Homo sapiens: one gene and its partner. The protein of the gene in region 1 interacts with the protein of each later gene in a biochemical or structural test. Each region holds a gene or a part of one and is shown in the gene's direction. Other genes may lie near its edges. The genes, in order: CDH2 and PTPRG.

Region 1 (4,028 bases):
GCCCTATAGGATGAAGTTAGAGCTTTTTAATAGTGCATTCCAGACCCTCTGTGACCTTGGCCCCAAAACCCTCCTTAACCTAACCCCCCAGAATTACTTGCCTTTCACATACAAATGATGCCCAACCACTCATTGAACCACACACAGTCCTTGTGCAAATAGGAAGTTTTCTATTCTTCTGTTCCCGTTTCCTCTGCCTAAATATTGTTCTCCTACATAACAGGCTAATCCTTACCCTCTGAGAGCCAGTTCTCAATCCCTTCTCTGATCACCCACAGTAGTCTCTGCATACCTCTATATAGACTGTGTTACACAGAAAGTATATCTGGATTCCCATTCTCAACATCCAGTGGGGCAGATATTCCTTGTCTCATTACCCTGAACATGAATTGTAAAGAAATGTTTAAGTTACTATACTTTACCTGAGTTCCACACCAGTCTTCTCCAAGGGGCACCCAGCACTCAAGGCAGGCAGATCAGTTGAGCCTAGGAGTTTGAGACCAGCCTGGGCCACATGGCGAAACCCTGTCTCTACTAAAAATACAAAAAATTAGCCAGGCGTGGTGGTGCATGCCTGTAATCCCAGCTATTCAGGAGGCTAAGGTAAGAGGATCACCTGTCACCTGAGTCTGGGTGGTCAAGGCTGCAGTGAGCCATAATCGTGCCACTGCAGTCCAGCCTGTGTGACAGAATGAGACCCTGTCTCAAGAACAAACAAGCAAAAAATACTTCCACTCCTTCCTTGTCCACTTGAAGTCCGGCTTTCCACCTGCTTCCCCCGCTTGACCTGTGCACATGCTGCATGTGTGCAGTACTCTTACCATCTTAGAGGGCACTCACGTAGTGGATTGGTTAACGGTACAGATTCTTGACCATACCTGAGTTCAAGTCTATTATCTGCCTCTTATGGCTGGGTGTCCATGGCAAGCTCCTTTACCTTCCTAAGCCCATTTCCTCATCTGTAAAATGGGGTTTCAAAACCCCACCTGCCTCATAGGATTATTGTGAGGACTAACTGAAATAATGCATAGTGCATAGCACTGTGCTGGGCACATAGTGCTCAAACTCAATAAAAGTTGTTTTTTGTTTTTAAATCAAGGCCCTTGGAACAGTGCCAGCATGTAATATGTATACAAAAGAAAGACCACATTTATAAGGTAGATGGTACTTTTAGTCCCATTTCACAGATGAGGGAAGTGGGGCTTAGCAGTTAAGAATTTGAACAGAGTTGGCCAGGAGTGGTGGCTCACACCTGTAATCCCAGCACTTTGGGAGGCCAAGGTGGGCGGATCACGAGGTCAGGAGATGGAGACCATCCTGGCTAACACGGTGAAACCCCATCCCTACTAAAAATACAAAAAATTAGCCAGGCGTGGTTGCGGGCGCCTGTAGTCCCAGCTACTCGGGAGGCTGAGGCAGGAGAATGGCGTGAACCCGGGAGGCAGAGCTTGCAGTGAGCCGAGATTGTGCCACTGCACTCCAGCCTGGGCGACAGAGTGAGACTCAGTCTCAAAAAAAAAAAGAATTTGAACAGAGTCACAAATCTATACTTCCCTCCTAAGTTTCGGTGACATTGTTATTCAACTCTCTGTCCCCAACCCAATTTATCTAGAGGCAAATCTGTCATCTCCTGAAACCCGTGATTTATGATGAATTTCCTATTTCACGTGACCAGGACCTTCTCCTCAGTCTCCCAAGGTCATCGTTTAATTGCCTTTCCCATGCCCTGCTGTCCCTCTACCTGCAATCTGTTTAGTCATCAAGTTCTTCTCTTTTTACTCAAAGTAATGACATTAAAAGTAATGGCAAAAACTGCAGTTACTTTTGCACCAACCTGATAGTTGGTATGCACTATTGAAGGTTCTTCATATTACTTCTTCCTACCATTTCTAGACTTGCACTCATGCATTTGGTGGCTCTATATGGTCCTGTGATCCTTTACTCTCTGCCTCCATCACTTAGTGAAAGCAAGGCTGTATCTCGTTTTGGTCACTGTTTTACCCAAGTAAATACTCCATTGCCTGGCATTTTGAAGACATTTCATTAAATGTCTGCTGTATGAATGACTGAATGTTCTCACCTCCTCATTCACTGATGTCACTCAGTGTTTCAAAATTGTGCTGCACGTGCATAAGATTTTAATTGGTAAATGCTGAGAAGCCTCTAGGACAGCAAGCGGACACAGCCTTTCACGTGCTACTTCATCAAGTAGAGACTGCCAGAATCCAAGAATTTCATCATGTTTATTTTTTACTGTCATATTTATGATAACTGATGCTAGCTTTCCATTTATGGGACTTTTACAATAAATTAAGCTTTAAAAAGGGAAATTAATGTCAATATAAATAGGAAGTGACTCATAGTATGAGGAAATGTTAGAATTGGGACTACTGTGCATGAATCACTGTGGTTTTGGGAAAAGGTGAGCTAGTTTATGCTCCCAGTATGGGTTTTAAGAAGTAAATTATAGCTATCCATGTGAATAGAAGATGGCTTTTTCTTTACCTGAGATAAGATCATGCAAAACCCAAGGTTTCTTATGCATTCACCCATCCATCCACCAAGTCAGAAGCATTTGTGGAATTCTTACTCTGAGTCAGGCACTGTGCCATATATGCCAGTGGCACAAGCATCAACAAAGCAAGGGCCCTTGGGACACGTGTGTGTGTGTCTGTGTCTCTGTATGCACACACATGCACAGTGAGGCAGATACAGACATACGACTGATAACAGCCATATAAACTATAAACAGTGATGGGGTGTGTTGTAAGGGCTCTGTCCTGAGGACACAAACAGCTCTTCCTCAAGAACTTTCAGAAGTCGTCTCCAAAGTGACTTGTAAGCTGCATGTTAGCCAGGCTTGGAATGAAGGGAATGGTATTCTAGGCAAGGGTTTCTCAGCCAGGACACTATGACATTTTTACTTGGTTATGAGGCCTGTCTTGTGCATCATAGGCTGTTTAGCAGCATCCTTGGCCTCTACCCATTAGATGTCGGTACTGAGTTTGGTTGTCACAACTAAGGAGTGCTTAGTTGTAACAACCCAAAATGTTCACTCTGTGTAACATCCACTTGTCTAGGCAGAGGAGAATGCCAAATGGAATGACACAGGATCATGACAGGGCATTTGAAGATAAATGCAAAACAGCTCCAGGTGTGGGGTAAGCGAATGGGAGGAATCACTTTTGTAAAATAGGCGAGTTTCGGAGAGGGAAGGATTGACAGCAAGCAGATGATTTTGGATTTTATTCCATATAGAGCAGGAAGGGAGGAGAAGTTTTCAAGCAGAATCCCCTTGATCAGCTGAGGTACTATGAGAGTGGGAAGTCGAACACTTAACGGAATCTAAATGTCAGTCATTCACAGCCAGATGCCCAATGACCAAATTAGGCAAGAAGCTCTAAGCAGTTCAGTTGTCTAAAACACAGGCTATCAAGCCTTCCTTACTAAATATAAGAATGTTTTAGCAATCTGGCATTTGAAAATGGAGATGACATTATTTACTATTTACCAAGTGGAATTTTTTTTTTATTTGAAGAGATATTGTACTTTGGAAATAACAAGTGTCCTTTTGTAATTTAAAATTTCCAGACTAGCTTGCAGCAATAAGAAATTTCAAGTATTAGCTACTAATTCCAATATTGCAGATCAATGGAAAATTATTGGATGTATTATGCTTACATAATTCTAAAGATTTTTGTAGACTAGACATTAGGAAATAACTATACTTTCATGTAATACCTATGTGAGTTAACTTCTTAAGAAATAAGCTTCCTTTTTTTCTCTCTTTTTGAGAATGTTCATCTGTTTCTGCAAATAGCAGCTAACAAAACTGACATTTCAAAAGTCATAAAAGTTTTTATTTTCATGGTTTTCAGCTGGGAGGCTGAACTGAATGTCCTGCGAAATTCTCTCACTAACCATGAAAGCATTAAGCTGAAGTGACACTTCTAATTGGGGAAGGAAAGCAACTGAAGAAGTATTATAGCCTATGTTAACATTTTTTTTTTTTTTTTTTTTTTGAGATG
Region 2 (3,500 bases), on another chromosome or scaffold:
GAGGCGCAGGGAAGAGGGCGGTTTGGTTTGGAAAAGTGCAGCCCGAGAGGGAGCAGCAGGCTTTGGAGCAAGGTAAAGTTAAAATATCAGAGCTCTGGGAGACGCTGGCTTTTCGTTTTCCGAGGTTGCCGCGACGCCGCTGGACCTCAGGGGGCGCCCCCGAGCCACTGGTGGGGCTCCTGCCACCTCCACACTGGTCGGCCTCGGCCACCTCCACGCCTCAGGGATGGGGCGCGCGTGCCCGGGTTCCCAGGCTCTGGGGCTGCAGACGCGCCTTGGCGCGAGGCGGCGGCCTCGGCCTGGCGATGCTGCTCCTGGCTTTCTCGAAACCCGCTGGGGGCTGGAGTTAGCCTTGGGACCCCTACTTCTTGCCTGCTATGACCTCGAAAGCGCTTATCTGTTTGACATGAGGGATAAAAATGCTTCTGTTTTGGAGTAGGGTCGTCCTTGTGAGGTCTTAGCCAAAATCCCTTTTTATTTAGTATTTTTGTGTTTCCTCTCAGAATCATAACTCAGCATAACTCTTCAGTTGCATTTGAGTTCTCAGCTCCTGTTCAGGATATGGGTTAGCTGTAGTTTGGGCAGGGTTTTGGAAACACAGCCCTGGCATGAGCTTTTTCCCAGTGGATTGGAAACAGTGGATTTTAGTCTTTGAACAGCAGTGTGGCAGGTTTGGGATCCATTCAGGGTTAATAATGCTTCAAGTGATGCTTTCCAAGTGCAAAGCTAAGAGTGTTACCAAACATGATATTAGGCATATTACATTGCTATATACATCTTTATAAAGCACTGTAGAAACGTTTACAAAAATAGCAAAATATAATGGATCCCCCACCCAACTTCAACACTCACAACTCAATCTTCTCTCATCTCTTCCTCCCCAACACCTTATTATTTTAAAGCAAATCCTACACATAGTTCATTCAAACTCTGATACATATCTCCAATCACTGGGAATTTAATTGCCTCTGACACAGTATAAAATATGTTACTTCAGAGTGTTAACCTTTTATCTAGTTTACATTCTCAAGCTCAGCAGATTTTTTTTTTAATTGATTTTTGTCTTTCGGCCCTCAGAGTGAAACTCTGGTTTTGATATGTTTTGTATTGTAATTACATTATATCTAGGATGCTGCCATTGGAAACAGTTCAGATGGATAAGCTCAGCTGTGTACCTTGGATGTGTCAGAATTGGAGGCTCCATGATTAATGTCGGGTGAATCATGAATCTCCCTCTAAGCTGTCTCTTATTTTATTTGCATGTGCGGGCTTTAGTTCTGATGGGCATCCGTTATGGCCTTAGGAAAAGGCAAAAGTAATATTTGGAAATCAGCAATCTTTCTCTTTACAGGGTGTGAGATTGTACAGGTTTTTTTTCCCTCTCCCTCATGTATCATGTTTGAAAATGAAGAATCTTTACCCAGTCTCTAAACTGGGTTCCTTTGACACAGTTATGGAATAAAATCTTTGATGTTTCCTTCTAAACAGTGTTCACATTTGAGGGTTGATGGACTTAAAACACTAATAAAGATAGGCATAAACAGGGCCTTTTGGAAATAGGGGAAGTTGCTGTTGTTGCTGAAAGAAGAAAGGTCATAGGAAGGGTTGGCTGATGTGGGAAAAGTGACTATTCCATAGTGAAGCTTTGAGTATCTCCCATTAATTATGGACCTGTTTTCACTGAATAAAAGATTATGTTGTTGTTTACATGAAGCGATCCAGCGAATGCTGATGATTTAATGCAGCAAAACAAACAGCCCTTTCAGATTTGCCTTTCTATTCTAAACAGCTCCCAAGTTAACAGAGTAGAATCAGTTATACACCTGTGTGCTGATTGAAAGTAACTTCCTTGGCATTCACGTGAGATCACTTAAAATGCCCTAGAGTAGTTACTCAGGAGCCTCTCCTACTCCCTTGTCTCCCTGCCTTTTCCTGGAGACTTCTTTTCTTTTTTTGAGATGGAGTCTCACTCTGTCACCCAGGCTGGAGTGCAGTAGTGAGATCCTAGCTCATTGCAACCTCTACTTCCCAGGTTCAAGCGATTCTCCTGCCTCAGCCTCCTGAGTAGCTGAGTCTACAGGCACGTGCCACTATGCCTAGCTAATTTTTGTAATTTTGTGGAGACGGAGTGCCGCCATGTTGGCCAGGGTGGTCTTGAACTCCTGACCTCAGGTGCTCTGCCCACCTCGGCCTCCCAGAGTGCTGGGATTACATTGCTACTGGGCTGTTGCTTTAACACTTTGCTTTTACAGTGACACGTTGTTTGTTCTTTTTAAATCTTGATTTCCATTCAGCATGTGGGACAATGAAATGCCATTTCTAGGCAGGTTGAAGATTGCAATATGCGTACATTCTGAATTAAGAGATTTAAACAATTGTAGTTAATACTGTCATCCTGGGTTACATTTCATGTGGTCACATTCCATAACCCGGAGCTTATGGGAAAAATTTAGGGCATCTGAAGTTCCCTCTAAAGCACTTGGTGCCCAGAAATTAGCCCTTGGTTTGCTTTGGTTCAGAGTTGACCTCTGTTAGATGTTGGGTGGTGGTCACTGAAACTGTTTTCGGCTGTATCCTGTTTAGAGAATAAAAGGGCTGTTTTATTAATATTATAGAAGCCAAGGAGTACACTGCTCCCCACCTTTAATTTTCCACCTGAGCTTGATCTAGGTTAAGCAGCCACTGACGAGGTAGAGGGAGTGGCTCAGGAGGGACTCAGGAGGGGCTGAGAAGAGCCTGCTCTGTGAGGGCTTCTTGTGGGATTTGGCAATAGTCACTGAATTTGTCCCAGAATGAGGTTGCCTGTGCAAATGATTAAAAGATAAAACTGGGCACTGTGGCTCACTCCTATAATCACAGTGCTTTGGGAGGCGGGAGGGTCACTTGAGCCCAGAAGTTCGAGACCAGCCAGGGCAACATAGGGAGACCCTGCCTCTACAGATAATAAAAGAAAAATTAGCTGGGTGCACTCTTTTGTCCCCACTACTTGGGAGGCCAAGATGGGAGGATTGCTTGAGCCCACGAGGTTGAGGCCGCAGTGTACTGTGATCATGCCACTGCACTCCAGCTTGAGTGACACAGTGAGACCCTGTCTCAAAAAAAAAAAAAAAAAATTAAAAGATCAAATGTAGGCTGGGCATGGTGGCTCATGCCTGTCATCTCAGCACTTTGGGAGACCCAGGTGGGCAGATTGCTTGAGCCCAGGAGTTCAAGACCAGCCATGTGCAACATGGTGAGACCTCATCTCTACAAAAAATACAAAAATTAGCTGTACTTGGTGGTATGCGCCTGTAGTTCCAGCTACTCCAGAGGTGGAGGACAGGACTTTGGGGCTGCAATGAGCTGTGATGGTGCCACTGCTCTCCAGCCTGGGCGACATAGTGAGACCCTGCCTCAAAAAAAAAAAAAAAAAAAAGTTCATTTGCCAGTCTGAGAAATGGGAGCAACCATCTTACTTGGAAACAAACTATATCCAGGACTAGGGCAACATTCTGTGCACT

What was found.
Region 2: of the proteins of CDH2 (region 1) and PTPRG, one has a biochemical effect on the other in vitro, tested with the Homo sapiens proteins (one large-scale study listed by IntAct).

The regions. Positions count from the first base shown.
Region 1 is NC_000018.10:27,995,308-27,999,335, reverse strand, and holds part of CDH2 (cadherin-2 isoform 1 preproprotein), read left to right. Parts: intron 1-4,028. UniProt on the Homo sapiens protein: Calcium-dependent cell adhesion protein; preferentially mediates homotypic cell-cell adhesion by dimerization with a CDH2 chain from another cell. Cadherins may thus contribute to the sorting of heterogeneous cell types.
Region 2 is NC_000003.12:61,564,571-61,568,070, forward strand, and holds part of PTPRG (receptor-type tyrosine-protein phosphatase gamma isoform 1 precursor), read left to right. Parts: intron 1-3,500.